4 linked regions of the Homo sapiens genome follow. The protein of the gene in region 4 purifies or fractionates together with the protein of the main gene of each other region. This does not show direct contact. Each region holds a gene or a part of one and is shown on either strand. Other genes may lie near its edges. The genes, in order: TMED5, DNASE1L1, IL13RA2 and MAN2A1.

Region 1 (8,517 bases), on a different chromosome or scaffold from region 4:
CTCCTGGGTTCAAGGGGTCCTCCTGCCCTAGTCTCCCAAAGTTCCAGGATTACAAGGCATGAGTCACTGCACCCAGCCTCATTTTTTAATTAAGTTAAAATTTCTGAGCATTCTTTAATAATAAAATTATTTTATTTATCTCCAGGAATCCATCAACAGCATCAAGTCCAGACTAAGCAAAAGTGGGCACATACAAACTCTGCTTAGAGCATTTGAAGCTCGTGATCGAAACATACAAGAAAGCAACTTTGATAGAGTCAATTTCTGGTCTATGGTTAATTTAGTGGTCATGGTGGTGGTGTCAGCCATTCAAGTTTATATGCTGAAGAGTCTGTTTGAAGATAAGAGGAAAAGTAGAACTTAAAACTCCAAACTAGAGTACGTAACATTGAAAAATGAGGCATAAAAATGCAATAAACTGTTACAGTCAAGACCATTAATGGTCTTCTCCAAAATATTTTGAGATATAAAAGTAGGAAACAGGTATAATTTTAATGTGAAAATTAAGTCTTCACTTTCTGTGCAAGTAATCCTGCTGATCCAGTTGTACTTAAGTGTGTAACAGGAATATTTTGCAGAATATAGGTTTAACTGAATGAAGCCATATTAATAACTGCATTTTCCTAACTTTGAAAAATTTTGCAAATGTCTTAGGTGATTTAAATAAATGAGTATTGGGCCTAATTGCAACACCAGTCTGTTTTTAACAGGTTCTATTACCCAGAACTTTTTTGTAAATGCGGCAGTTACAAATTAACTGTGGAAGTTTTCAGTTTTAAGTTATAAATCACCTGAGAATTACCTAATGATGGATTGAATAAATCTTTAGACTACAAAAGCCCAACTTTTCTCTATTTACATATGCATCTCTCCTATAATGTAAATAGAATAATAGCTTTGAAATACAATTAGGTTTTTGAGATTTTTATAACCAAATACATTTCAGTGTAACATATTAGCAGAAAGCATTAGTCTTTGTACTTTGCTTACATTCCCAAAAGCTGACATTTTCACGATTCTTAAAAACACAAAGTTACACTTACTAAAATTAGGACATGTTTTCTCTTTGAAATGAAGAATATAGTTTAAAAGCTTCCTCCTCCATAGGGACACATTTTCTCTAACCCTTAACTAAAGTGTAGGATTTTAAAATTAAATGTGAGGTAAAATAAGTTTATTTTTAATAGTATCTGTCAAGTTAATATCTGTCAACAGTTAATAATCATGTTATGTTAATTTTAACATGATTGCTGACTTGGATAATTCATTATTACCAGCAGTTATGAAGGAAATATTGCTAAAATGATCTGGGCCTACCATAAATAAATATCTCCTTTTCTGAGCTCTAAGAATTATCAGAAACAGGAAAGAATTTAGAAAAACTTGAGAAAACCTAATCCAAAATAAAATTCACTTAAGTAGAACTATAAATAAATATCTAGAATCTGACTGGCTCATCATGACATCCTACTCATAACATAAATCAAAGGAGATGATTAATTTCCAGTTAGCTGGAAGAAACTTTGGCTGTAGGTTTTTATTTTCTACAAGAATTCTGGTTTGAATTATTTTTGTAAGCAGGTACATTTTATAAAATGTAAGCCCTACTGTAAGGTTTAGCACTGGGTGTACATATTTATTAAAAATTTTTATTATAACAACTTTTATTAAAATGGCCTTTCTGAACACTTTATTTATTGATGTTGAAGTAAGGATTAGAAACATAGACTCCCAAGTTTTAAACACCTAAATGTGAATAACCCATATATACAACAAAGTTTCTGCCATCTAGCTTTTTGAAGTCTATGGGGGTCTTACTCAAGTACTAGTAATTTAACTTCATCATGAATGAACTATAATTTTTAAGTTATGCCCATTTATAACGTTGTTTATGACTACATTGTGAGTTAGAAACAAACTTAAAATTTGGGGTATAGAACCCCTCAACAGGTTAGTAATGCTGGAATTCTTGATGAGCAATAATGATAACCAGAGAGTGATTTCATTTACACTCATAGTAGTATAAAAAGAGATACATTTCCCTCTTAGGCCCCTGGGAGAAGAGCAGCTTAGATTTCCCTACTGGCAAGGTTTTTAAAAATGAGGTAAATGCCGTATATGATCAATTACCTTAATTGGCCAAGAAAATGCTTCAGGTGTCTAGGGGTATCCTCTGCAACACTTGCAGAACAAAGGTCAATAAGATCCTTGCCTATGAATACCCCTCCCTTTTGCGCTGTTAAATTTGCAATGAGAAGCAAATTTACAGTACCATAACTAATAAAGCAGGGTACAGATATAAACTACTGCATCTTTTCTATAAAACTGTGATTAAGAATTCTACCTCTCCTGTATGGCTGTTACTGTACTGTACTCTCTGACTCCTTACCTAACAATGAATTTGTTACATAATCTTCTACATGTATGATTTGTGCCACTGATCTTAAACCTATGATTCAGTAACTTCTTACCATATAAAAACGATAATTGCTTTATTTGGAAAAGAATTTAGGAATACTAAGGACAATTATTTTTATAGACAAAGTAAAAAGACAGATATTTAAGAGGCATAACCAAAAAAGCAAAACTTGTAAACAGAGTAAAAATCTTTAATATTTCTAAAGACATACTGTTTATCTGCTTCATATGCTTTTTTTAATTTCACTATTCCATTTCTAAATTAAAGTTATGCTAAATTGAGTAAGCTGTTTATCACTTAACAGCTCATTTTGTCTTTTTCAATATACAAATTTTAAAAATACTACAATATTTAACTAAGGCCCAACCGATTTCCATAATGTAGCAGTTACCGTGTTCACCTCACACTAAGGCCTAGAGTTTGCTCTGATATGCATTTGGATGATTAATGTTATGCTGTTCTTTCATGTGAATGTCAAGACATGGAGGGTGTTTGTAATTTTATGGTAAAATTAATCCTTCTTACACATAATGGTGTCTTAAAATTGACAAAAAATGAGCACTTACAATTGTATGTCTCCTCAAATGAAAATTCTTTATCTGAAATTTTAAAAGACATTGATTCCACATGTAAGGATTTTTCATCTGAAGTACAATAATGCACAATCAGTGTTGCTCAAACTGCTTTATACTTATAAACAGCCATCTTAAATAAGCAACGTATTGTGAGTACTGATATGTATATAATAAAAATTATCAAAGAAAATTAACTGCCAGTCATTTGTAAATGCTGTCTACTCCTGAAAGCCTTCCTTCATCTCTATTTAGTTAATAATGTGCTCTCTCCTCCTGTTTTGAAACCCCATAGCTCTCTACACCTCTTATTGTACATCACTCTACTTTGCATTGGAGTTCTGTTTCTATATGTACTTATTCACCTGTTGCCTAAACATGCACTGTTCCTAAAAGGTACAGTTTTTGCTCAAAATATATGAAAGGAAAGATAATCAGTTCTTAAAGTTTGGTATGCTAAATAAGCACCCAGGGAACTTACCTGCTCCACCTCACCCCAGAAATTGATTATTCAGGTCTGGAATATGGCTCAGGATTCTTAATTTTCAACCAACACAATATAGAATCCTGTCAGTTATCCTTGGATCATTTGCTAAGTGATCTTGCAAAATCAAAACTCCTTTGAGACTATTTCATTTTCAGAAATATTTTAAAACTTGTTCAGAAACATCTTAAAACTTGTTAGCATATAGGAAAAGTACAATGCTTGGTGTAGGTAGGTTATTATTTGGTCATTTCCCTCAAACCATCCAGACAAGCCACTCTTCTACCACAAGCTGGTAGAAATCCTTAGGCACCTTTCTGCTTCTGCACTGCTATCACTTTCAGGTGTCTAAGGCTTCTGGAAGGCTGTTGTCATAACCTGGAGCCATACACCTAATGTACGTCTGGGGAAAGGACACCAATTAAAGAATCTAGAGCTAGGATGATGTTACATAAGACAGGGCACAATGGAGATGGACTCTGGATCCCTGCATCTGAAAGAAAAAGGCAAGAAAATGCAGGGCAGGGAAAATCCTGAAGGTCTTCACTGACCATGAATTAAAATCCTAATTGACAGTTTTACAAACAAAAACCCTCGTTTTAGTACTTGTGTTGTTTTTGTTTCTGTTTTAACAAGCTTAGATTTATTATTGTGCCTTTTATGGAAGATGAGGAAGAAATAGGAAAGCAGTAAAATGAACAATGAGAATCTGTTACCCAAACTGATATAAACTCCCTCAGAAAGAAAGATACTACTCCCTAATCCTGGAAGTGTTAAGTGGCAATAATGATCAAATGTTGTAAAGGGGATTGTTACTACAGCTAATATGAAATGGGAGGCTGGACTAAATCTAACCTTTCTACCCTTGATTTCAATTCTAAAAGGACACGTAATACCATTGCAGAAAGAAAAGACAGTTCCAAATGATAAATTTTAGAGTTGTTTTGCTAGGATGCAAGAGAAATTGGATAAGTGGACCACTCATACGTTGCTGGTGAGATATGAAATAGTAGAGCCACTGTGGAAAATATTCTTGGCAGTTTCTTATAAAACTAAACATACATTTAACATATAACTGGCATTTGTACTACTTGACAGTTATCCCTGAGAAGTTAAAACTTAACATTCACAAATGTTACATAGCACCTTCATTTATAATAGCCAAAACCCGGAAACAACCTGGATGTCCTTCAAAAAGAGTGAATGGTTTAGTATGTCCACACCATGGAATACTAAATAGTAATATGAAGGAACAAACTACTGATACATGTAACAAATTGCATGGACCTCAAGGGAATTATGCTTGGGTGGTTTGGGGGGACAATCCTAAAGTTTTACACACTGTATGATTCTGTTTTTGTAACATTCTTAAATAATAAAGCTATAGAGATGGGAAACAAGATTCGTGGTTGCCAGGTCTTGGGACTGAAGGGAAGGAGAATGTGGCTATAAAGGGAGCCTTGTGGTGGAAAAGTTCTGTAGTTTGATTGTGGTGATTACATAAATATACATGTGAAATGTTAGAAGTATTTATAGCTGAAACATATTAGTATGTTGGTATATACATATTTCTGACTAATTAATTTCGCCATGTTGCCCAGGCTGGTCTCGAACTCCTAAGCTCAAGTGATGTGCCCGCCTCAACTTCCCAAGTGCTGAGATTACAGGCGTGAGCCACCATGTCCGGCCTGTTTTTTCCTATGCATGCATAATTACGATCAAGTTTAATTTGTAATTAGGCACATTAAGAGATTAACAATAGCTAACAAAATGGAACAATTACAACAATATATTGTAATAAAAGTTATGCAAATGTGGTTTCTCTCTCTCAAAATATCTTGTACTCACCCTTGTGAGGCTGTGAGATGTCATACAATGCCTACATGAAGAGATGAAATGAGGTGACTGATGTAGGTATAAGTGATGTAGTTAGGCTACATTATCATCAAAATAACTTCGGGTAATCCTGGATCACTGAGCCAAGGTAATGTTGATGGTTAAGGAGCAGACAATGTTGATGGTTGGGGATCCTCAATAGGTGAAGGATTTCTATTTTGGGGTCTTTTTGCTGAAAAATTTTGGAAGAACACTGTAACCAGAAGTTGTTGACTCTTCAGCTCATCGAAGTGTTGCTGCAGAGACTGTAATCCTTTGGTGATCATATTGGTAACTTTAATGCTGTGTCTCATCTGAGGATCGTATTCTATAATTCTGTTGTTTAATGTCTGTGCAATTCAAAACACTTCGGCAAGTTTAATTAATGTCTATGTTGGCTATTCTGCTTCAGTTTTTTTAATCTTCCTCTCCCTCTGCAGATGACTCAAAAATTTCTTCCAATTCCTCATTTGTTAACACTTCGTGATGGCCTTTGATATGCTCTTCATCAAGCACATCAGCAAATCCTTCACAAGTTCTGTGAAGGATTGTCTTGTCTTGCTACATGATTTAAACTTGCCATGGGTCCCTAGGAAGCCTTTAAATCATATATATAATTCCACATTCTTCCAGCAGGTATTTACCTGTTTCTGGTTTTAATTCATCCACTGCAGCTTTGATGAATGTTATCACATGAGCAATAGTGAATGATATCCAGCACTGCATTATATACGTATTAGGGTCTGCAGCAATTGCTGACCAAATGTGTTCAAATATCAGGCAGTTGTATGTGGCCCTGACAAACCGAATGATGCCCTGTTCAGGGACTGAAGCAGTGAGGTTTTATCTGGAGGTAAAAATACCACCTCAACATTTTCATTTTCATAGCAGACAGATTCATGTATTGTCCATTATTAATACTTTAAATTCTAACCCTTTCTCTTTCAAGTATTTTTGCACTTCTGGGATGAAGCACTGGTGGAACCATTCCATAAAAATGGCTGTCACCCACACTGATTATGTTGCCAAGACACATAATATTTTGTTTTGTTTTCGAGATCATGTAGGTTCTTCACTCTATACACTACACCTCGCTTTATCATATGCCCTGCAGCAATGCCATATAGTACCAGAGTTAATCTGTTCTTCCATGCTGTATGCCCTGATACCGCCGCATTTGCACTTTTATGAATCTAAGTTCTATTGGGCATCTTCTCCCAGAAGAGCCTGATGTCACTGCAATTGAAGACTTGCTTTGAATGGTATCCTTGCTCCTTAACTTCAACTCTGCCGGAAATGAGGCAGCAGCTTCTTCATCAACAGACACAGCCTCTTCAGTAATTCTTAAATACTTCAGTCCAAACCCATTCCTGAATCTGTGTAACCATCCCTTATTTGCAGCAAATGGCTTGGTATCACTCATTTCAGGAGATCCCTTGCTGAATGTTTGTATAGGCTCAGTGCTTTCGCGGCAACACCCTGACGTCAGCTGGAACACATTTCTTTCTGTTCGTGTCTTCCACCCACAAATTTAACCCATTTATACCGGAGGTTGCAAAATCTGTGAAAAATCAGACCTTGGCAATGACCTTGAGCAGCAGGATATAAATAACTCTCACAAGCTTAACGTTCCAATAATAAAACACTAGGCATAAATGGGCTAATGCCTTTTTCATCTTAAAACTAGCACGAATGTTTTTTCTTCACAATTTCATGAAGATCTGTTCTTACCTTAGATCTTACCAATCTCTGCATATAATTTTCTTCTCAAGTACTTTCACCTTTTCAGTTTATGACTTAATGACTTATCTTTGGCATATCCAATTGCCATCATCTCTACACTTATACCTTGGGGCCACAATAAAGTAAAATAAGGGTTACCTGAACACAAGCACTACAATACTGCAATAGTTGATAGGATAACCAAGATTATTAAGTGTCTAATGGTAGGTAGCATATACAGCATGGATAGGCTGGACAAGGGGATGACTCTTGTGTGAGATTTCATTACGCTACTCAGAATGGCATGCAACTTAACACTTGAATCCACAGACAAGAGGTGACTACTGTAATGTCTTTGAAAATGCTAGGCCCTCAAATATTGAGTGACACGCTCATTCTTGACTCCAGGCCTTATTCTGCTCCTTCATGTTGAAACTAGATTTTCTCTTATGTAGCCTCTATTCAAGCTAACCCATCCTTCAAGGTAAAACCTAACAAATATTGCAGTCCAGATCAATCTCATTTCTCCAGCAATACAGCACATATTTTGATACCTGTAGTCATCTACTGTTTTCAAATGTTACTTAACAATTACGCTTATGTCCTAACTCTCCAAGACTGTACTATTATACTATAAACAATACTTTCACCACCACCCCCCCAAATTCCACCTCCTTGATTTTATGCTATAAAATACACTATCCTATTTTTGCCAGTTAAGATCCTATCATCCTTCAAAGCCTAATTCAAATAGAATTAATTCCCTTTCAATAAGTCTTTCCCTTGGTATCTTTCTTAGGCTTACTCTAAATGTCAATGGAACTTTGTACCGATACTCCATAGTAATTATCAATTTCAACTCAAATTTAGTTTATTTATGTCTATCTTCCATAATTTAAGAACTCAGAGGCAGGCTCCTAATCTTTCCTCTATCTCTTCACAGCAACTCATAGGCATTCAAAACATGATTGCTGAATTTGAATAAACACTTAATACAACCACACAGAATTTTACATCTCAACCACTTTCAGAAAAACTAAAGCATAAAAGAAAAAATCCTGTAATACTATAGTGAGTTGACTTGTGTCCCCCCGAAAAAGATATATCCAAGTCCTAACTCCCAGTATCTGTCATCGTAACCTTATTTGGAAACAGGGTCTTTGCACATGTAATTAAATATCTCCAGATAAGATCACCCTGCATTTAGAATGGGCCCCAAATCCAATGACTGTTGCCCTATAAGAAAAGGAGAGGAAGATTGGAAATAGGGGAATGCCTCATAAAGATGGAGGCAGAAATTGGACTTATATGTCCAAGAATTACCAGCTGCAACCAGAAACAATAACAGGCATGGAAGGGATTCTCCCTCAGAGTATCCAGAAGGAACCAACCTTGACACAAACTCAGTTTTAGACTTCTAGCCTCTAGAACTCTGACGAACTGCT
Region 2 (2,760 bases), on a different chromosome or scaffold from region 4:
TCAATGCTGATGAATTTGAAGACATGGTGGCTGAAAAGCGGCTCATCCCAGATGGCTGTGGGGTCAAGTACATCCCCAGTCGTGGCCCTCTGGACAAGTGGCGGGCCCTGCACTCATGAGGGCTTCCAATGTGCTGCCCCCCTCTTAATACTCACCAATAAATTCTACTTCCTGTCCACCTATGTCTTTGTATCTACATTCTTGACGGGGAAGGAACTTCCTCTGGGAACCTTTGGGTCATTGCCCTTTCACTTCAGAAACAGGTTGACAACTCAGCCCTGCTCATGAGGCAGCAAACCCTGCAAAGGGCTGGGACTGGTGGCCTTATGTCAGTTGTCTACTCTGGAGCTTGACTTGGACCTCCCCAGGTCCTAGGCAGTAGGTTGAAAAACACTGAAGTGCTTTTCATGAAGCACAGCTGCAGCAAAGCCTTGCAATCCCAGGCTGGGGTCAGCCTACAGTTGTGTTGCTTATTACAACACATGCGGACCAAGAGGGGCTTGTGGGCTAGAGGCTGACCAGCAGCGTTTATTTAGCAAGGGTAGGTGTGCATCACATTGGGCTTGTTCTCACCCATCTGGTTTGGCCATTCCTCCTTGGTGGGAATCATCCAGGTACTGCTGAGGTCACCTGCGATTTGCCCCATTTCCTATCTCTAGCAACCTCCTGGGCCCCATGCCCCCACCCCTTCTAGAACCTGCATTCCCAGGGCCTTCACCACCTGACCAAAGGTCTAGGCTAACCTTTGGTCATTTGTAACAAGACCTCGGAACAGACACGTGTGTGGCATGGTTTGGCCTGGGGATCTTAGATGTCTGACCTGAACTATTGTAGAACAGCGCTGGCTTTTGGGGGAGCAGCAAAAATGAGAGGAGTGCTAGGTGGGTGGCCTGAGCATCTGTATCCAGGGACAGGACTCCAAAGGCTTTTGGTCCCAGAGCTGGGGTATGTTGGCCCCAGCCCCCAGCCTGTGGCTCCCAAAAGGCCTCTGGTTTTTTGTAATCTCAGTTTACAGCCATTTCTTAGGTTTTTAATTACCTTTATTTTATTTTGCCAAACATACCTGGGAATACCTTTTATTTTTTTTTTACCTTGGGGTGATGGTTCCAAACCATAAATGTGATTATAGTTAACACATGACCCTTCTAGCGTCCCAGCCAGTGTTTTTCCTGACCTCTCTTCTTTGGAGAGGAGGATGGAAGGGAGGGGTCCGGCATGCTGCTGGCATTTTGCTGTGTCCTGCAGCCCCTTTCCGGGACACCTGGGTTCACACAGCTTTTTAGCTTACATAACTGGTGCAGATTTTCTGTGTGGAGATGTTGCCTTGACCAGCCTTGGCTGGACTTTACCAGGCATGCAGAAGCCTGTACCAACACAGACTACAGCACCCAGGAGGTGCGAGTGTGGCTGCTCAGCGGTTATAACAGGCCTGACTGCATTGTTCACCGGATTATAATGAGCCAAAATGTTTCCCGGTGTTTGCTGGTTTCAGGGAAGGAGTTTGATATAGCAGATTAACCACCCTCCTTGTAGCTATTGGGGCTTAATGGTTTCCTGGTGATTCTTACCAATCCACAATAAACATGGCCCATTGGCATATCTGCTGCACAAGTGTCCTATCTCACCAATCTGGGTTTTTGTTCTCAGTAACTTTCCTTCTTGTCATACAACATCTTCATTCCTCTTTCTGAACCCTCCCTTCCCCTACCCCAACCCAGAGCCCACTTTGTCTCCACTCCTGATACTACACTACCTGGCAGGTGGCATGAGTGCAGGGCCCCTGGCTTCCTCTCCTAATCTAGGCACAAGCCCAACCAAAGAACAAGAGCCAAATCAAACAAGGCAGGCAGGGGTGGACTACAGTCACAGGGCAACTATAGTTGAAGCCCCCCAGCCCCAGGGCTGGATGGACGGGGGAGGCTGGGGTTTAAGTCCCAAAAGGCAGCAGGCCCTGGGGGGGTAGGGGGACGCTCAGGCAGCAGGGCACAGCTGAGGGGACAGGAGTGATAGCAGCAACAGAACAGTGAGGCTGAGAGGCTGGACGCTGTGCGCCTGGCTCAGCTTCAGCTCCACCTCCACGGGGTAGTGGTCACTGATGTTGAGGGCCTGGGAATGGGTGGTGGGGCAGTGTCAGTGCCCGGGGCCGAGGGGCTTCCCTGTGACCCTGCTGCTGCCCTCCCTCCTCATGCCAGCCCCATCCCTTCACCTCCTCCTCGGTGAGCTGGAAGCTCGTGGGGAAGTCAAAGGCAGCCGCAGTGTGCAGCAGACTCCGGCAGCGCTCCCCGTGCAGCACGACGCGGTCATAGGTGCAGTGGGTGCTGGCCCGCACTGTGGTGTCCTCCCCATCGGCAATCACCCAGTGGAAGCCTGGCTCAGTCCGCAGCTCCAGCTTGTCCAGGCGCTTTTTGGTCAGTGAAGCGCAGTCAGCATTGAAGTCCCCAAGCAGGATCACGTCCTAGAGACACAGCAGCCATCAGGCTGGCCGCTGGGCCACCCTATCCTTGTCCCTCCTGTACAAACTGCCCAGGCCTACCTTGCTCTGCCAGTGCTGGGAGACCTCCAGAAACACATCGTAGAGGGCGTTCAGCTCCTTCTCTACGGCCTTAGGAGTGGTGTGCAGCGGGACCAACACCAGGCTGGGAAGGACTGCAAGGCCCAGGGACCGAGGGCTGCCATCCACTCCTGGACCTTCTCCCCCTAGCCCGTCTGGGTGAGGAAGCCCCCAGTGGAGCCAGCCAGAACTCCCCTTCTGCTCCCACA
Region 3 (8,517 bases), on a different chromosome or scaffold from region 4:
CCCGTGTTATTGCCTTTTATACCTTTGTTTGCATTACCTTCTGGAATGCCCTCTGGCTCTATCTTTCTTTCACCAATTTTTATCCATCTTTTTCAAGGCTCATCTGCTCCCCAGTTTCATTAACCTTTAACTGATCATGTCAGCTTCTGTTTTGTTTTTCTTGAGCTATTACTTTGTTTTTTTTTTTGTTTGTTTGTTTGAGACAAGAGTCTCCCTCTGTCACACAGGCTGGAGTGCAGTGGTGCCATCTCGGCTCACTGCAGCCTCCACCTCCTGGGTTCAAGCGATTCTCATGCCTCAGCCTCCCGAGCAGCTGGGATTATGGGCGTGTGCCACCACACCTGGCTAACTTTTGCATTTTTAGTAGAGATGGGGTTTCACAATGTTGCCCATGCTGGTCTCAAGCTCCTTACCTCAAGTGATCTGCCCACCTCAGCCTCCGAAAGCGCTGAGATTACAGGCGTGAGCCACTGCGCCTGGCCTTGAACTATTTTTTTTTATAGCCTGTAATTGTTTATTGTCCAGATGGCATTTAAATTTTTTCTCATATATGTGTGCTTTGTCTCCTGTTAAATTTTTAAGGGATTGGTGGGCATGAATTGTTTATTATATTTCTCTTGCCTACCTCCAAAGTACTATACCCGTAGTAGATTAGCACTAAATATTTATTACATAGCTGAAACAAGTGATAGCACTGATAAACTGATAGGTAATTATCCAAACATATGCATTTACTAAATAATGGAAAAATCAAGAGAGGACTAAGCATTACTATTGGTGAGTTCTAGTTCCAAATTATCATGGCATCTTTCTTTAGAAAATAATAATAGATAAATCATAAGCTATAAACTATTAACAATCCTGAGATCTGGGTTCTAATCCCTGCTCTAGCATCATTTAACTTGGCGGCCTTGGGCAAGTAATTTTTTCTTTTAGAATTTTTGTTTCCTCATCTGGAATTGGATAGGTAAATTTCAAAGATCTAAATTATTTGTTCATTAATTCAACAAATATTAAGCATCTTTTAAATGCCAGGCAGTGTTCTAGATAAAAAGGACAAAAGCATGAATAAGAGAAAGTCTCTGCCCTCCTGTACATTGTGGTTCATATTTGATATAATTTGATCCTCATCTTGGTGAAATAGGGAGGAATAAACATTAACATTTTAGAGATTGGAAAATAAAGCCTTCCCTGCTGACATCAAGTAAGTCTGTATGGAGTTAAGCCTGGAACTGAAGTCTCCCAAACTCTAATCAAGTGAACTAACCAAGAGACAACAATTTTGCAAACTCTCCCTAAAGTAAATAGTTGGCATAAGGTTAATTTAGTAGAGTCCAGATATGTGTACAGGCACCTTATCAGCTGCTACATTGGCCTCTTTTCAACAGGGATTTGACTGCTTTTACAGATAATGTCATGGTTTGCATTGCAAGCTATTCTTTAGGAAAATAGCAAGCATTTGTTGCTTTCGAATTTAGTAGGGAATCACTCCTAGTTCCTTTTAGCTTTATTACTGGAATAAGGTTAACTTAAAATGATATGGTAACATTTCTCATTTAATAGATGAGAAAATTAAATATTTACTTGCCAAACAACTCCTTCTTTTTCCTTTTGCCCTCCTACAGTTGGCTTTTCTGAGGTTTATCTCTTGATGTGTATTGTATACTCCAGATTTTCATTCATTTTATTAAACATAATATTTTCTAAGTCTGCTTTAAAATTTGCTTTCTTTTAAAATAACTTCCCCAGTAAAATAACTTAAAAGGCAATATCATGCAGGATTATTTGTACAAATCACAGGTTTTCTTACTAGGAATCTTATTCTTTGATTCACAAACCTTGTTGATGAATCAATATAACCTAAGTACACAAGTAAGAATCCTTGTCTTTGAGATTTTGCGAGGACTCCCAACAAATTGTAAGCTCCATGAAATCGGGGACTATGTCTGCTTTCCCTACTGTTTTTTCCCTATTGCTTATCATAGTGCCTGACATATAGTAGGTGCTTAATAAATATTGTACATTATTAAATGATTTTTAAACTGACATGGTATCCTAATATAATTGAAAATGAAGTGCCTTGATACTGGAAAAGATTGTTATTTAAACACAATTCTCACAACACTCATTTTACAGGTATGAGGGCTTGGATCATGCATTACAGTGTGTTGATTACATCAAGGCTGATGGACAAAATATAGGATGCAGATTTCCCTATTTGGAGGCATCAGACTATAAAGATTTCTATATTTGTGTTAATGGATCATCAGAGAACAAGCCTATCAGATCCAGTTATTTCACTTTTCAGCTTCAAAATATAGGTGATGTAAACCAACAAACAACTTCAAATTCATTGTTTCTAGTTTAGGCCATTTACAACCACTTGAGAGGGTGAGAGAGAGAAAAAGGGGAGGAAGGAGAGAGAGACATAGACAGAGAGAGAGACAGAGACCTATGGAAATGCAAAGACAGAAAAATGAGAGTCAGCAGAGTGTATGAGGTGGCGCTTATTAAATATTTAAGGATGAAAGATAAGAAATTTAATAAAGGTTAAAGTATCATTTTCATTTAGAACTCACAATTTTATTTTCCATCTTCAGTTTGTCTGCTATACAGTACTTTTGTCTAGTGTTAGTGATGGATTAATTATGAAGATACTTCTTCCCAGGCCTCAATAGACAAATGGCTGGATATTTATTGAGTCTATATTTTCAGTTCTAATGGTTATGAGAGTGATGGGTTCTAGAGTCTGCCAGACCTGGGTTTAAATCTTAGATCTACCATTTTTCTAGTCGTGTGACTTTGGGCAAGTTACTCTGTTTCAATTTCCTTAGTAGTAACATGAGGATAACAGAGGACCACCTGATAGGTTTATTGTGAGGCGTGAATGAGATTATTATGTAACATCCTTGGTACTTACAGTGTCTGAAATAGCATAAGCACTAAATAGGGTTATCTATTTGTAAAAGTAGTAGTATTGTTGATTGTGGTTGTTATTTCTAATGCTACAAAATGGAAAATTGTTGTAATGATTTGGGTCTTCGAACTTTTCTCTTGGATTTATATATTTGTCAGTGGGTGACTTGTCAAAAATGAGTTTCCAAAATAACCAAGTTTGTTAATAAACTCATCTTGGTTGGCAAGCAACTTTGATTTTAATACGTATCATAGGGAATATTACTGAGCCACTTGGTTTATCCCTGGAGGTTTCTGTTACCAGATGTCCCTAGCTTTGGATAAAGGCTACTGCTAAACTTCAACAATCTCCGTGTTGAAATGGTTCTCTTTTGCTTTTCAGTTAAACCTTTGCCGCCAGTCTATCTTACTTTTACTCGGGAGAGTTCATGTGAAATTAAGCTGAAATGGAGCATACCTTTGGGACCTATTCCAGCAAGGTGTTTTGATTATGAAATTGAGATCAGAGAAGATGATACTACCTTGGTGGTATGAATATTGCATTTATTTGGGAAAATCATAACTACAGCCTTTTAAATAAAATAGCAAATGTGAGAACCAAAATCAGTTGCATCCACGTGAGGGACAGAACATGACATATATCTTAGTTCAATTTCCAGAAAGCCAAATAAGCTAATGGACAAAAGTATAATGAATGATACCAATTTTAAAGTTACATAGGACCTTAGAGATTATCTAGTCACTTGTTTTCAATTTTGTGTCAATAAATTAAAGTTGGTGAAGGCTTAAGATGGATTGTGGAGAGGCCTCAAGTAAAAGCAAAACAAAATTAAAAAAAAAAACCCACAAAGACCACTTATTGAGGAACAACCATCAGGTCAAAATTACAGTATGGCAGGCTTACAAGAGAATTGCTTGTACCAGGCAAGAAGGGCTGCCTGGGGAATTAGGCAATGGTTGCAAGACTAATTACTGCCACCAGCACCAACAATGTGGTGATGCCTTTAATCACACATTGTTATATATTATTTTTCCTTATTAGTTTCCAGTTTAGAGAGTGGTAGAGAGAAGTTAGTGAGTCAGTAGTTCTAATTCATTCCTTTCATATACAGATAAGAAAACTGGTTGTTGAATTGATGTATAGATCCCAGGTATGTAAATTCACTTACAATCAAATTATGCAGCTAGAACTAGATATCAGATCTGGTTCCCAGTCCACTTAAGTCTACACTACATTATGTTGATTCCTAAGATAAGTTATGCCAAAGGAAAAGCTATTATATTGAATGAGAAAAATTCTTCAGCTCTTTGAAATGCAAAATTGAAATAATTGCTTCAGTGATTTTTTTACTCTGAGATCACCCAGCCTTGAGATAGTCTCATAACTGTAGCAATAGTTTCATACCAAGCCATGAGCACTGTTATACAGGTTTTGTTTCCTTATTCTTATTCCAAGCCCTGAGCATTGTTATGTAGGTTTTCCTTATTCTTATTAACAATCAGAATAAGGAAATAAGCATAAGGAAAAAAGAAAAAGCTATATATTAATATGTGAACTCTATAGTTTCCATAGTAATAACATTCACATGCTGGCTCTGTCTTTTGGTAACTGAGTGTATGTAGCATCTTCCAGTTCATAGAATCTGGGAAATTTGACACTAGTCCACATACTGGGTGTTATAAACACCAAGGCTACCTAGGAATTTTGCTGTCTCACACATGCTGTCCTTCACTGTAAGTGATCCATTATCACTGTAGAAATAAAATATAGATAAAGAAGGGAAGAAACAATGATTTTAAAACCCCCACTATACAGAGAGCTAATTACTGCTGGGATTATGCATCCAGTCTTTTGATGCATAGATTGCATAGATTTTATGTAATAAAACCCACTTTGAAAGGGACAGATATGGAATCTGTCTAGTTGCAACTAGATCAAATAATGGCATCTGATTTTGTCCTTGGCTTTCAGACTGCTACAGTTGAAAATGAAACATACACCTTGAAAACAACAAATGAAACCCGACAATTATGCTTTGTAGTAAGAAGCAAAGTGAATATTTATTGCTCAGATGACGGAATTTGGAGTGAGTGGAGTGATAAACAATGCTGGGAAGGTATGAGCTAAAAGGACAGTAACTAAATAATGAGCTCTTTGCTAGCAAAATTAATTTTCTTTTGGTGTATTTTGTAATTACAGAAGTGAAGGACTTTCCCATATAGTCTATGAACAGAGAGAATAAGTTAGGGAGCACTTCAATTGAATAAAGATTTATTAAAAGTCTAATATTCATTCAGTTAGGACTAGGAATATTGTTATACTTCTATTATCAAAATTCTTGTTTTTCTGTCAATATAGATAATATGCTCATTCTTTTGAGAGATTGGCAGGAACTTATTTTAATCAATATTTTCATATGCTTTCAGTATTCAAGAGAACAGAAATCTTAAAGCAAGTATAGATCAGCATACATTTGTTTCTGGGTGTCTAATACTATTCAAAAGGAATATTTTTCTAATTAAAAGGTCATGAATAGTAAAATACATATTCATTCCATTCACTTCTAACACTGATTTAAAGTGATTTGTGATAAAGTCATTTAAATTACATAGCAATATAAACTAAAAAGCCTAAAGAATGAGGTAAAATGTGATTGTGCTTCACAATGTATTAGCTTTAAGAGTAGAAATTACTAATAAATGTTCAAAATTGAAGGAAATCAACTCAGCATTGCTCTTTCAGGTACATAGATATAGATGCAGCTCTAAATAAATATACTGATGCTGATACAGACAGATACTGCCATATCTATCAATCATTCATCTCCTTTCATGTTGTTCTACTATAGTGGAATCTCTATTATCTCCCTACGAATACAGTGGTATCATTGATCCCTTTCATTCATCAAATATTTATTAAGCACCTACTATGTATCAGACTCTTTTCAAGCATTACAGATATGGCAGTAAAGAAATCTCTACCCTCAGTGAACTTACATTTTATTTCCAATTGGGTAGAGATAGGCAATAAACGAGAAGCCTAATAGATTATATAATCACTAAGGATTATGGAGAAAAAATAGCAAGACAGTGGAAAACTCAACCAAGAGCTATATGGAATCAGAAAGAAGACTTACTAGTTTTATGTTTTTCATTTTTGTTACTGTTTTAAAAAATCAGGAAACTCTAAAGTTATGTCCTGAACTATATCTCGTCATTAGTCAATGCATTGTATAAAGTGGTTATGGTGAGTTTTTAGCCATATCCTCAAAAAATATATTCTTTTCTGTATTTTACATGCAATCTTATCAATGATAGTGATGCCTAAGATTTCTCTTGCTTTGAGGGAAATCTTTTCCTTTTTTTGGTACAGAGTCTTGCTCTATCACCCAGGCTGGAGTGCAGTGGCATGATGTTGGCTCTCTGTCACCTCTGCCTCTTGGGTTCAAGCGATTCTCGTGCCTCAGCCTCCTGAGTAGCTGGGATTACGGGCATGCACCACCACGCCTGGCTAATTTCTGTATTTTTAGTAGAGACAGAGTTTCACCGTGTCGGCTAGGCTGGTCTTGAACTCCTGGCCTCAAGTGATCCGTCCACCTCGGTCTCACAAAGTGTTGAGATTACAGGCATGAGCCACTGTGCCCAGCCCTCTTCATAGAATCTTAATGACTTTGAAATTAGAAACAAGGAATTTCTTGAGTTGCATGTGGTCTCAGTTCTTTAGGACATTTCTTATTGGATGTTTCAAGTTATAGAAAAATAGGACAATAATATTTTTGGAAATAAAAGTATGTCCTCTTCAGGATTGACTCTGTATGGGGAAAGCCAGTAGAACTTCAGCAAAGGAGCTTCCTGCCTTCCCACTGTTAATTTTGCATGACAGATAACTTACATCAGTAATTTCTCTGGATTATATTCTTGTAAATCTTCTCTGAACACGTGAATTTGACTGATAATTTTCTAATAGAAAACAAGATCGTGAGGAAATAGGACAAAGAAAAAGGTGGGATCAAGAGAGCTTTGTAGATGCGTGGCTAAGATTCAAGATCTTTTATATTACTCCAAAACAAGTGAGAGGTACTAGTTTAGGGAGACCAAACTTCGTCTGCTTTTTAAGTTTGCCTAGTGATTGCTCATTTCTTGCTATGCAGAAGAACCATTAAAACTCCATCCCTAAACTAACAAAGCAAAATCAAAAAGAAAAGAAAAACCTTATCCCTCCCTTTGGTCTTTAAAATATGAGACAACTTTAAAAAGGTAACCTTAAAAGATGATTTCCATTACTCACACAGGAATTTTTATTGAAGGATACCTCTTGCTTGGTACAGTATCCTATGATCTAAGTACACGTTTGACTTACTGAGAGTTAAGAGACAGACACACAGGACATGTTTGTTTAATCACTTGGCTAATATTTTGTCATTTTTAAATGGAGAATTCACAAGGTCAAATATAAACAAACTCATATCAGGAAATAAGAATTGTGTTTGGGGAAGTTATTTTTCTAAGTGAAAATAAGACATGTCACAGTTCAGTAAAGTACTTTTCTATATAAAAATTGCACAAATGAAAGGAACGCTATACTCAAACACAATTGTGGTATTTATGCACTGGCAAATATGACAGGGGTTTCCAAGCTCAACTCAGTTCTGAAGTATTTATAAAATAATTCAGTTTCAAAAATAGTGGCAAATGTCTAACACTTCCCCTTTCCGTGTGATTTTTAATCCTAGGTGAAGACCTATCGAAGAAAACTTTGCTACGTTTCTGGCTACCATTTGGTTTCATCTTAATATTAGTTATATTTGTAACCGGTCTGCTTTTGCGTAAGCCAAACACCTACCCAAAAATGGTAAGATGTGTAACATTATGATGTTTAGCCTGAGAATAGGAGATTTTTAAAATGTTCTGCACTTAGAACTGATGGAGATACATTTTATAATTTTGCTTGTTCGCTGTGGGTGTACAATTGATTCCGTATGGATTATGATGTTATCTTCAGAAAATACAGCAATTTTTAAAAATTAAGCTTACAAGACTTCATTTTGAGGTGGATTTACTTTTGTCGAAATCAAACTTTAAACATGAAATACTATTTGGCCCTAGATTAGAGAATGGTATACGGAAAGAGTTACAAGAGAAAAGCAGGATTGGGAGAAATAGAAGAGTGAATTAAAATGATCATAGACTGAAACACATATTACCAGTGTGCCACAGGCACAAGAACACATGCAAATGATAAAGCATGGTGCCTGCCTTTGGAGCACACACTCAAGTTAAGGGAGACAGGATCCATACAAAAAAATATAACCTTTGAGATGATTTTAGATGATTGCCATTTGAGTCGTGCAGATAATGCTATAGAATTTCAGAAAACAATAGGACCACTCTGGGTTGGGGGGCTTTAAGGAGGAGTTGTAACCTGGAGAAAAATATCTTTTTGGGACAGGGTCTCATTCTGTCACTCAGGCTGGAGAGGAGTGGTGCAATCATGGTTCACTGCAGCCTTGGTATCTAGGGCTCAAGCAATCCTCCTGCCTCAGCCTCCTGGGTAGCTGGGACTACAGGCAGGCACCAACATAGCGGGACTCCATCTCTATA
Region 4 (8,517 bases):
AAACCCAGCTAACTTTTTGTATTTTTAGTAGAGACGGGGTTTCTTTCACCTTGTTAGCCAGGATGGTCTTGATCTCCTGACCTTGTGATCCGCCTGCCTTGGCCTCCCAAAGTGCTGGAATTACAGGTGTGAGCCACCGTGCCACGCCTTCATTAGAAATTCTGAACTGCTCTGATCTTGTAGAGCTTTTAAGGCTAGTGAGCACAAGATTTCTTCTAATTTAGTATTTTTAGAAACCTTTTGAATGCGATGTCTGAACGATAATGAAAAGGAAAACAGAGTGTTCTTTTATTAGTTTAAAAGATGTTAAGAAAGAGAGAGCCCTTCAACTGCACTTCTGATCATTTTCAGAATCTGGAGAGAATGCAGATAGAGAAACAAAAGTTAAATACCAAACCAAAAACAAAAGTAGGTTGAACTATACGGCCTCTCAACTCTGTTTCAAAATCATTAAGGACCAAAAAGTTTATATAATTTTGGAAATGTTGCTTGTCGTTCTTGATTTTGTTTTCTCCTGAAGCTTAATTTGGGCAATAGTTACTTTGGGGAGAAAAGGGTCAAAGAACAACTAAAGTAGAGACTGAGAAATGTAAGAATATTTTGTCAGGTATGCGTTAGTTTAGTTTTTAAATTGGATTTGTAAGGTTTAACAAAAATAGACACCCAACAAAGACAATCTTTAATACTAACTCATTTTCTGTTTCTTTATTCCTTGTTGCTGAGATTACAAAATCTTTTGTATAATTAACTGGTTTAGTAACCTAATACAATTACAGTATGTAATCATAAAACATTAATAGTCTCTCTCCCCAAACCCTCATTTCTTCCTGGATTGAAAATCTGGTACTAACAACAAATAGGCTCTATTCATTAATACTCATGCAAATAACTGCATCTGGTTGGTTTAAGGGGGACAAAAGTAGCATATATCCAAAACTAGTTTAGTAAATTAAATTCAAGAATAAATATTTTTTGTTATTTTATGCAATACTAGCTAAAAGCCAATCTACAACAGCATGGAAGTTGGCTGACGTTTCCTTTGCATCTAAAATGAAAAGCCACATTTTGTCTATGCATTTTGATCAATCATCCAGGTGTCTGATTTACAGGAGGCCAAAGTTTAGAATGTTAAACAACTTTCCAGTATTTCTTAATAAGGAAGACTTGGCACTAAATAACAGATCCCTGAAGACTGATCACCCTTTCAGGCAGCGTGAACGCTGATAGAGCCAAATACCCTGAAGACTTCGTATATCTATCATGGGCCTTGATTAGTGATTTCATTAAAACCACAATCAGCCAGGATTGAGACAACCCGAGTGTTCAGGCAATGGTATGTGAAAAACAGGAGAGACAGGTGAGTCATGAAGATTACTAAGGAAAGACTCTCTCCACAACCGGGCTTATCTTTTCCCAGAGGGAGATTTGTTAAGAGGAGCTCAAATACAAACACGGGAAGGTATATAGTTTGGAAGAAAGCATTTCAGGTGATTCTGGTATCTCTATTTCCTACCAACTGCTTTCATGTTGAAAAAAAAAATGATCCGGACTAGAATGAAAAAAGATTTACAGGTTACGTCCAGTTTATATATGACGGCTTCTCATTTAATCCAGGCAACTACTGTAAAACTCATCAGTGAGGCGCTCTAAGTTTGCATTACACTTATTTATCCATCATTTATTATTTTTTTCATATGCCCGAGAACACCAAGGAAGAGAAGACAAATAATCTAGAAAGGAAACACATGAAAAAAGAAAATCAAGCCAGGTGCAGTGGCTCATGCCTATAATACCAGCACTTTGGGAAGACAAGGCGGGTGGATTACCTGAGGTCAAGAGTTCGAGACCAGCCTGACCAACATGGCGAAACCCCATCCCTACTAAAAATAGAAAAATTAGCCAGGCGTGGTGGTGTACACCTGTAGTCCCAGCTACCTAGGAAGCTGAGGCAGGAGAATCCTTGAACCAGTGGGGCAGAGGCTGCAGTGAGCCGAGATCGCTCCACTGCACTCCAGCCTGGGCGATAGAGCGAGACTCTGTCAAAAAAAAAAAAAAAAAAAAAAAAAAGGAAGGAAAGAAAGAAAGAAAACTAAAGAATAAAAAAGAGAAAAGAGGCAGAGGCAAGACCAGCAAATAGAAATGGGCTACATTGAGAGCCCCTTTGGAAGGCCAGGAGCCAGTCAAACCTCAGTGGCCCGGGCTCCTGCTTAACACTATTAGCCACTGGACAGTTCACTGCCCAGAGGGAAACAGGAAGAGAGGGGGAAAGGAAAAATGACAAGCATTTAGTTCTGATGAGTGTAGTTTGCTCAAATAAGTAAATAGGCAAGTCAGAGCCTATTAATTTCCAAGTCAAGCACTAAGCTACAGCCACTAGCAGCAGAACAGGGCCATCTAGTCTACACAAACTGCCCTATGATGTGAGAACTAGAGGTCCTGGATAATCCAAGGAAAACCCAGAAGATACAGTGACATAATTAAATAAAAGCAAAAGCAATTATGCAAATATACCTGATTGAGAAGTTGGAATTTTAGGAAGAGTTGCTACAGCATTTCCTCTGAGACATAGCCCATCTCTAAATATAACTGATGAAAAACAATGGTAAATCAAACCTGATGACACAAGTTTGTGCCAAAGTGTGTGCCATGTTGTACTCCAGGAAAAACTTTTCCACTAAAAAACAATAGTTTAAAGCAAACTTAAAAATAGATCAGCATATCTTCTGTGGGGTAATGCTATAAAGTTGAAGATGTAACTTAGAGCTCTCAGGGGTATTAAATAATGGCTTACACAAGAGTACAAACAGATGATCAAAAACAGTTTCTGACTTACCAGAAGTTTTGAGAAACTCAATAGAAGATTATTTCAGAACTACAGGTTTTCCTGTAGGTAGCAAAGTGATCACAGATAACTTCAGAAGTCACATTTAGGACACAAAATTAGTGTCTAGCATTATTTTTCCCACCTGCCAGAGAACTTTTACTTCTTGATTCATCCTATGAATCATGGGTTATTCTGAAAAACCTATCATATTATTACCTAAAGAAGTTGCATGAGAAAGTTTGTCCATACCTGAAATTCTAACAAAAAGCAAATACTAATGAAATTTGAAGTTAATAAAAAAGTTAAATAAAAGCAAAATTAAATTTAACTATGAAATCAGAAAATTGAACTTCTGTGATTTAAGAGATTCCCTGAACATAGTATCCCTTTGCTTTCCCACAATACCTAAAAAGGAAACCGTGCCTACCTATACATTTATCTTTAGTTTGTGAAATCCTTTATTTTTTACCTGTATGAAGATTCAGGGAAATAGTATTTTTTCTTTTCTAATTTGTTCAACTTAGCTAACAGCAAAGATAAATTTAAATGGCATTTTTATGAGGTCTTTTTCTAAGAGTGTTGATAATATGGTAAATACCCTGGTTATTAGGATTAAATCTGTAGTTGGAAAAGCACACCATTCTACAAACAATGAATTCTAAATCAACCAACCTAAATGTGCAAGTCTTTGGAAACCACAGCTCCACTCAGACCCCATGGAATCAGTTCCATTGCCCAGGGTTAAGTTCTCAAAAGGATCAAAAGCCTATTTCCTATCACTTGGGTTCATAAAGATGCTGCTCAATACTGTTCTAAAAATGATAAACAATTGCTAGGTTTTATACTCTACTGGGTAAAGAGCTGTAAACAAATAGAACCAGCTTAGAACATTTTTCTCTTAAAGTTACATTCCAGTGATACAGGCTATATTTAAGGAAGCAGGCCCCATATATGTGTGTGGTCTATTAACTGAAAGTCGTATTTAATATAATTTCCATTTCATAAAATCAAAACACTGTATTGTTTTCAGGTGTTAAAAATAAAGTTACCAGTTAATGAGCTCAAGACCAATATGGCAACAATTAAGAGAAGATATACAGAGGAACATGTATATGTAGGGATTGAAACGTTTTACCATTTTTTATTATCAAAGGGTAAGTTTCATATTTTAAATCATATTAAAAATGTCAAGTTTAGAAAAACATCATCTACAAAAACCAACTGTTAATTTAAGAATGGCATAAGAAAAGCAAGAATTCAAAAACCATAATACATATGTTTCATAACTGCATTCCTATTTTCTTACCCTGTATGTGGTATAGTCGGACTCTATGAGTAACATGGTCAAAAAAGCAAGTCACTTCCGAATAAATCCTTCCATGTGTCACTCTGACAAAGGGCGGTGTTGTGTAAACATAAGGCTGAAAAGAAAATAATATATTTAAGAAAAATATTTTGGCTTCCAAACTTTTAAAAGAATATGTTTATTATGGTTTCAAAAATAGAAAATACGTATCACCTGATATTTGCAATTTTAAGTGTAAACCAGATCTTACAAGGTAACAAAATATGCATGTGATAAAAACTGAACGTGTTTTTTATTTTTAAAAATGCTGAAAATAGGAAATAAAAATGTTTACAACTTCACTGGTCTAGAAAGCATTCCTCCCAGCTATACAAATTTCTAACTAAAATCCTTCTATTTGTCCATATAGTTACTTATTAGAAACAGCAATCATTCTACAGAAGTTACATTTTCCCAGGTAAATAATTATTATAACCATGGTCCCAGCCCCCTAATGTTCAGGGTTTGGGACAGGTGGCAAGGATGACTACAGGGAGTCATCTAAGCAAACTGAAAGCAGGATTCAGAAACATAGTTTAATCATAGCTCGGTTTACTAAACTATAAAACATTCTGTCCTTTTACTTGAAAGAACTAGCTGAATATAAATTCACAAACTTGAAAAAACTACTTGGAAACCACTAGTTTAGTTTTTATTTAAATTTTAAAAAATGGTAATAAAGCACATAACTTATGTGACATGGAAGCAAATTTAAAACATTTATGAGTAATTATATTTTTAAAGTATTAGATACCTTAGCTCAACAATAGCATAGAAAGTTAGGCTTGCAATATGAACTACTTAAACAGTGTAAGATTTTCGGCCAGGCGCCGTGGCTCACGCCTTGTAACCCTAGCACTTTGGGAGGCCGAGGTGGGCGGATCACAAGGTCAGGAGATCGAGACCATCCTGGCTAACATGGTGAAACCCCGTCTCTACTAAAAAGACAAAAAATTAGCCAGACTTGGTGGCGGGTGCCTGTAGTCCCAGCTACTCGGGAGGCTGAGGCAGGAAAATGGCGTGAACCCAGGAGGCGGAGCTTGCAGTGAGCTGAGATCGCGCCACTGCATTCCAGCCTGGGTGAAAGTGCAAGACTCCGTCTCCAAAAAAAAAAAATTTTTTTTTCAGAATTGTGTAATTTTCTTCCAAATTTACCTCTTTGGCTAGGGAAAATTTTCTGGAGTTATTAAAATGCTTAATGGTTTACAAATTTCTTGTACCTAATTACCAAATAGCTAGAAAGTGAGGGAGGGGATGAGAACCTGGGATGATGAGTTCTGGGCTCTTGCCTTTTTCTGATGCACTAGACTGCCTCTTTCCCTGATGTTTTTTATTTTCTCTCTGTAAAAATGACAATTGTTTTATCTTTCTATCTGACATTAGAGCTATTTAAAGATAAAATGGTTTTAAATAAATTAGTTATTGGTATCTACGCATGAAATTCTATAGCACAACTACTTTTTTAAGTATAAATACAGTCAATCAAAATAAAATGTCCAATGACAAAAGCTGGTGAATGAGAAAACACTGAAACAGCTCATATTTGGGACTCACTGCCCATCCTGGAATGCCTCATATGAGTTGTAGTTTGTCTTTAATTCTTCACTGACTTAAAAAAAAAAAAAAAGAAAAACCCCAAACAGCCAAAAAAAAAACCAAAAACAAAAACAAACAAAAAACCTAGAGTCCTTACTGTAGCCTACACAATCCCTTAAAATCCAGTATTGGATTTTAGTTAGCAGGTTTCATAACTTGTGGAACAAAAGTAACTTTTTCAGGAGATAGGTCCCTAGCTAACAAGACAATAATTAGGATAACATTTCACTGATCTTGAGGTATAGAAAACCTATAAAGGTATAAAAGCAAAGGAAGAAACTCTACAGAAAAAAAAGAAATGACTACACAAAAATTTAAAACCACTATAAATGAGAAATACAATAAAATAATTAACAAACTAAATGACACAATAAGAAAAATTTTACAACATATAGGGAAAAGGATTAATTTTACCACATATAGAGTGCTCAGAGATCATCAGGACACACCAACAGAAAAACAGTCAAAGAATAGAAATAGGAAAATCACAAAAGAAATATGAAAGATAAATGAAGGTACAAAAACGTTCAACCTTACTAGTAACCACAAAAATCTTAACAGAAAAATATTTTTCTACTAACTTACTATTATAGGCAAAGCTTGTAATATGGCCAATTCTCAGTGCTTGGAGTGGGATTTTAGAGTTAATCTCAAAAAATGCTGGTGGGATTGAACATTTACCTAGTCTTTCTAGAGGGAAGATAAGCAGTACACAGCAAAAGTCCTTAAAAGACTTCAGACACTGATACAAAATGACTCTTCTAGAAAGTTATTCTCAGCAATTAATCAGAATTGCATTGTAGCATTCTTTTTGAATGCTACAAAGAAAGCTTATTACAATGTTATGGTAGTGAAGAATCGGGAGAAAAAGAATATAAGCAACATCTTAAACACAACAGTATATATTAAAATTGGATTTTTAAAAAACATACCATCAGATTGTGAGCACTGTCACAAATGAAAAACAAAATATGTACATGCAATAAGTCAAGACTTGAGAACGGGGAGAAAAGGATATGCATAAAATAAAAGACAATAAGAAATACATCCAAATGTTGGCAATGGTTTTCATGGGATTGTGCACCTGTTGGTAAATTTTAATGTTTTCTTTAGTTTCTGGCATTTTCAAAATGTGCCAGAGTTTGCGTATTACTACCTTTATAGTCAAGAGTGAGAAAGATTTGTTTTTTAAAGGGCTGAAAGTTAAGGAGAAAAATGGTCCAGTGGAAAATCTATTTTTCCCATACGGCTAGAGGTTTTGTGTCTGTATAAAATGCATACATATAAAGCTCCCTAACTCTACGTAAAATCTAGTTTCTTCCCATGTTCATTGTTTATCCTAACTGAACATTGTTCATTGTAGCATCTTAACAAATTCCAACTCTAAAAAACTATTTATCTAACGGGGTCTTGCTCCGTCAACCCAGGCTGGAGTGCAGTGGCGTGATCTTGGCTCACTGCAACTGCCTTCCGGGCTCAAGCCATCCTCCCACCTCAGCCTTCCTGAGTAACTGGGACTGTAGGTGCAGGCCACCATGCCTAATTTTTGTATTTTTTGTAGAAAAGGGGTTTTGCCATGTTGCCCAGGCTGGTCTTGAACTCCTGAGCTCAAGCAATCTACCCTCCTTGGCCTCCCAAAATGCTGGGATTACAGGTGTGAGCCACTGCGCCCAACCATTTATCTAACTTTCGACTACAAATTGCTAAGTATCAATAAGGTGATAGATAATACTGCAACCAAAAGTTCATCTATCCCTAATAAATCAACAGATGATAAAATAATGACACTCACTTATCTTTTTCCTCAATACTCTTTCAATAAGTGTTTATTCCATTTGTCATCTCATCAGTACCACTTACCTTGGCATTACCATCAGGTAAGAAGAGGTAGGCACCACTTTTGTCTCTTTTAATTGTGGTTCCATACCATGAAAATTGCACATTTACTTCATGGTGTTTACCATCTTCTTTAGTCATCATTTGCTAAAGATTAAAAAAAATAATAATAAGCAACTCACCACTAAGATGTTAAGCATGTTGCATCTGGTTCTATGTATATGACAATTTAAAAAAATAATTTCTGTACTTATCTGGTGGACCAGTGACACACAGACCACGGAGTAGCGCCACCCACAGACTATACATGTGAGCAGCAAGTGGTCAATGAAGGTGCAAAAAGCTCATGCTTCCTTTTACTCAAGAGTATTTGATACAGCTCTACTTAAGACTTTTTTCCCCTTTTGCCTAATTAATCTACACACATTGTAGCAAAAATGATAAGCATTCTATGAATTTTAGAACTATTCAGAACATACCTTCATAAGTCCAGTTTGATCAAACCGAAGTAAAACAAAGGAGTTCTCTAGTGTTATACCTTCTTCAGTATTTATCATATTCTTTATGGTGAAAATTCCGCTATCTTCTACTTTATTCTTATACAAGACATAATCAGCTAAATGTGAATTTGAACTTGCTGATTCCAAAATCTTATACACTTTCAGTCCCAATGGCGGTATATGTGCTCGAAAAGAGATCTTTAAAAGATAGGGAAGGGAATTTATTAAAGATAAATGTTATCTACTGAGAGGCAAACCATTTATATTTTTGGTAAAACCAACAAACTATCATATTTTTTAAAAAGAGAATCCAGTTGGCCCTCCATATCCACAGGTTCCATGTCCACAGTTTCAACCAATTACAGATAAAAAATGTTTGAAAAAAAAACAAAAAACAAAAAATACAAATAAAAACT

What was found.
Region 1: the proteins of MAN2A1 (region 4) and TMED5 purify together in Homo sapiens (co-immunoprecipitation; one large-scale study listed by IntAct). This does not show direct contact.
Region 2: the proteins of MAN2A1 (region 4) and DNASE1L1 purify together in Homo sapiens (co-immunoprecipitation; one large-scale study listed by IntAct). This does not show direct contact.
Region 3: the proteins of MAN2A1 (region 4) and IL13RA2 purify together in Homo sapiens (co-immunoprecipitation; one large-scale study listed by IntAct). This does not show direct contact.

Annotation. Positions count from the first base shown.
Region 1 is NC_000001.11:93,146,517-93,155,033, reverse strand, and holds the end of TMED5 (transmembrane emp24 domain-containing protein 5 isoform 1 precursor), read left to right. Parts: intron 1-145; coding exon 146-364; 3' UTR 365-5,292; downstream 5,293-8,517. UniProt on the Homo sapiens protein: Potential role in vesicular protein trafficking, mainly in the early secretory pathway. Required for the maintenance of the Golgi apparatus; involved in protein exchange between Golgi stacks during assembly.
Region 2 is NC_000023.11:154,400,736-154,403,495, forward strand, and holds the end of DNASE1L1 (deoxyribonuclease-1-like 1 precursor), read right to left. Parts: intron 2,647-2,760; coding exon 2,534-2,646; intron 2,456-2,533; coding exon 2,207-2,455; intron 2,107-2,206; coding exon 1,972-2,106; 3' UTR 501-1,971; downstream 1-500. Other genes in the region: RPL10 (large ribosomal subunit protein uL16), read left to right, coding at 1-288.
Region 3 is NC_000023.11:115,004,448-115,012,964, reverse strand, and holds part of IL13RA2 (interleukin-13 receptor subunit alpha-2 precursor), read left to right. Parts: intron 1-2,136; coding exon 2,137-2,321; intron 2,322-3,298; coding exon 3,299-3,444; intron 3,445-4,888; coding exon 4,889-5,033; intron 5,034-7,649; coding exon 7,650-7,768; intron 7,769-8,517. UniProt on the Homo sapiens protein: Cell surface receptor that plays a role in the regulation of IL-13-mediated responses. Functions as a decoy receptor that inhibits IL-13- and IL-4-mediated signal transduction via the JAK-STAT pathway and thereby modulates immune responses and inflammation.
Region 4 is NC_000005.10:109,819,451-109,827,967, reverse strand, and holds part of MAN2A1 (alpha-mannosidase 2), read right to left. Parts: intron 8,300-8,517; coding exon 8,081-8,299; intron 7,749-8,080; coding exon 7,626-7,748; intron 4,246-7,625; coding exon 4,131-4,245; intron 1-4,130. UniProt on the Homo sapiens protein: Catalyzes the first committed step in the biosynthesis of complex N-glycans. It controls conversion of high mannose to complex N-glycans; the final hydrolytic step in the N-glycan maturation pathway.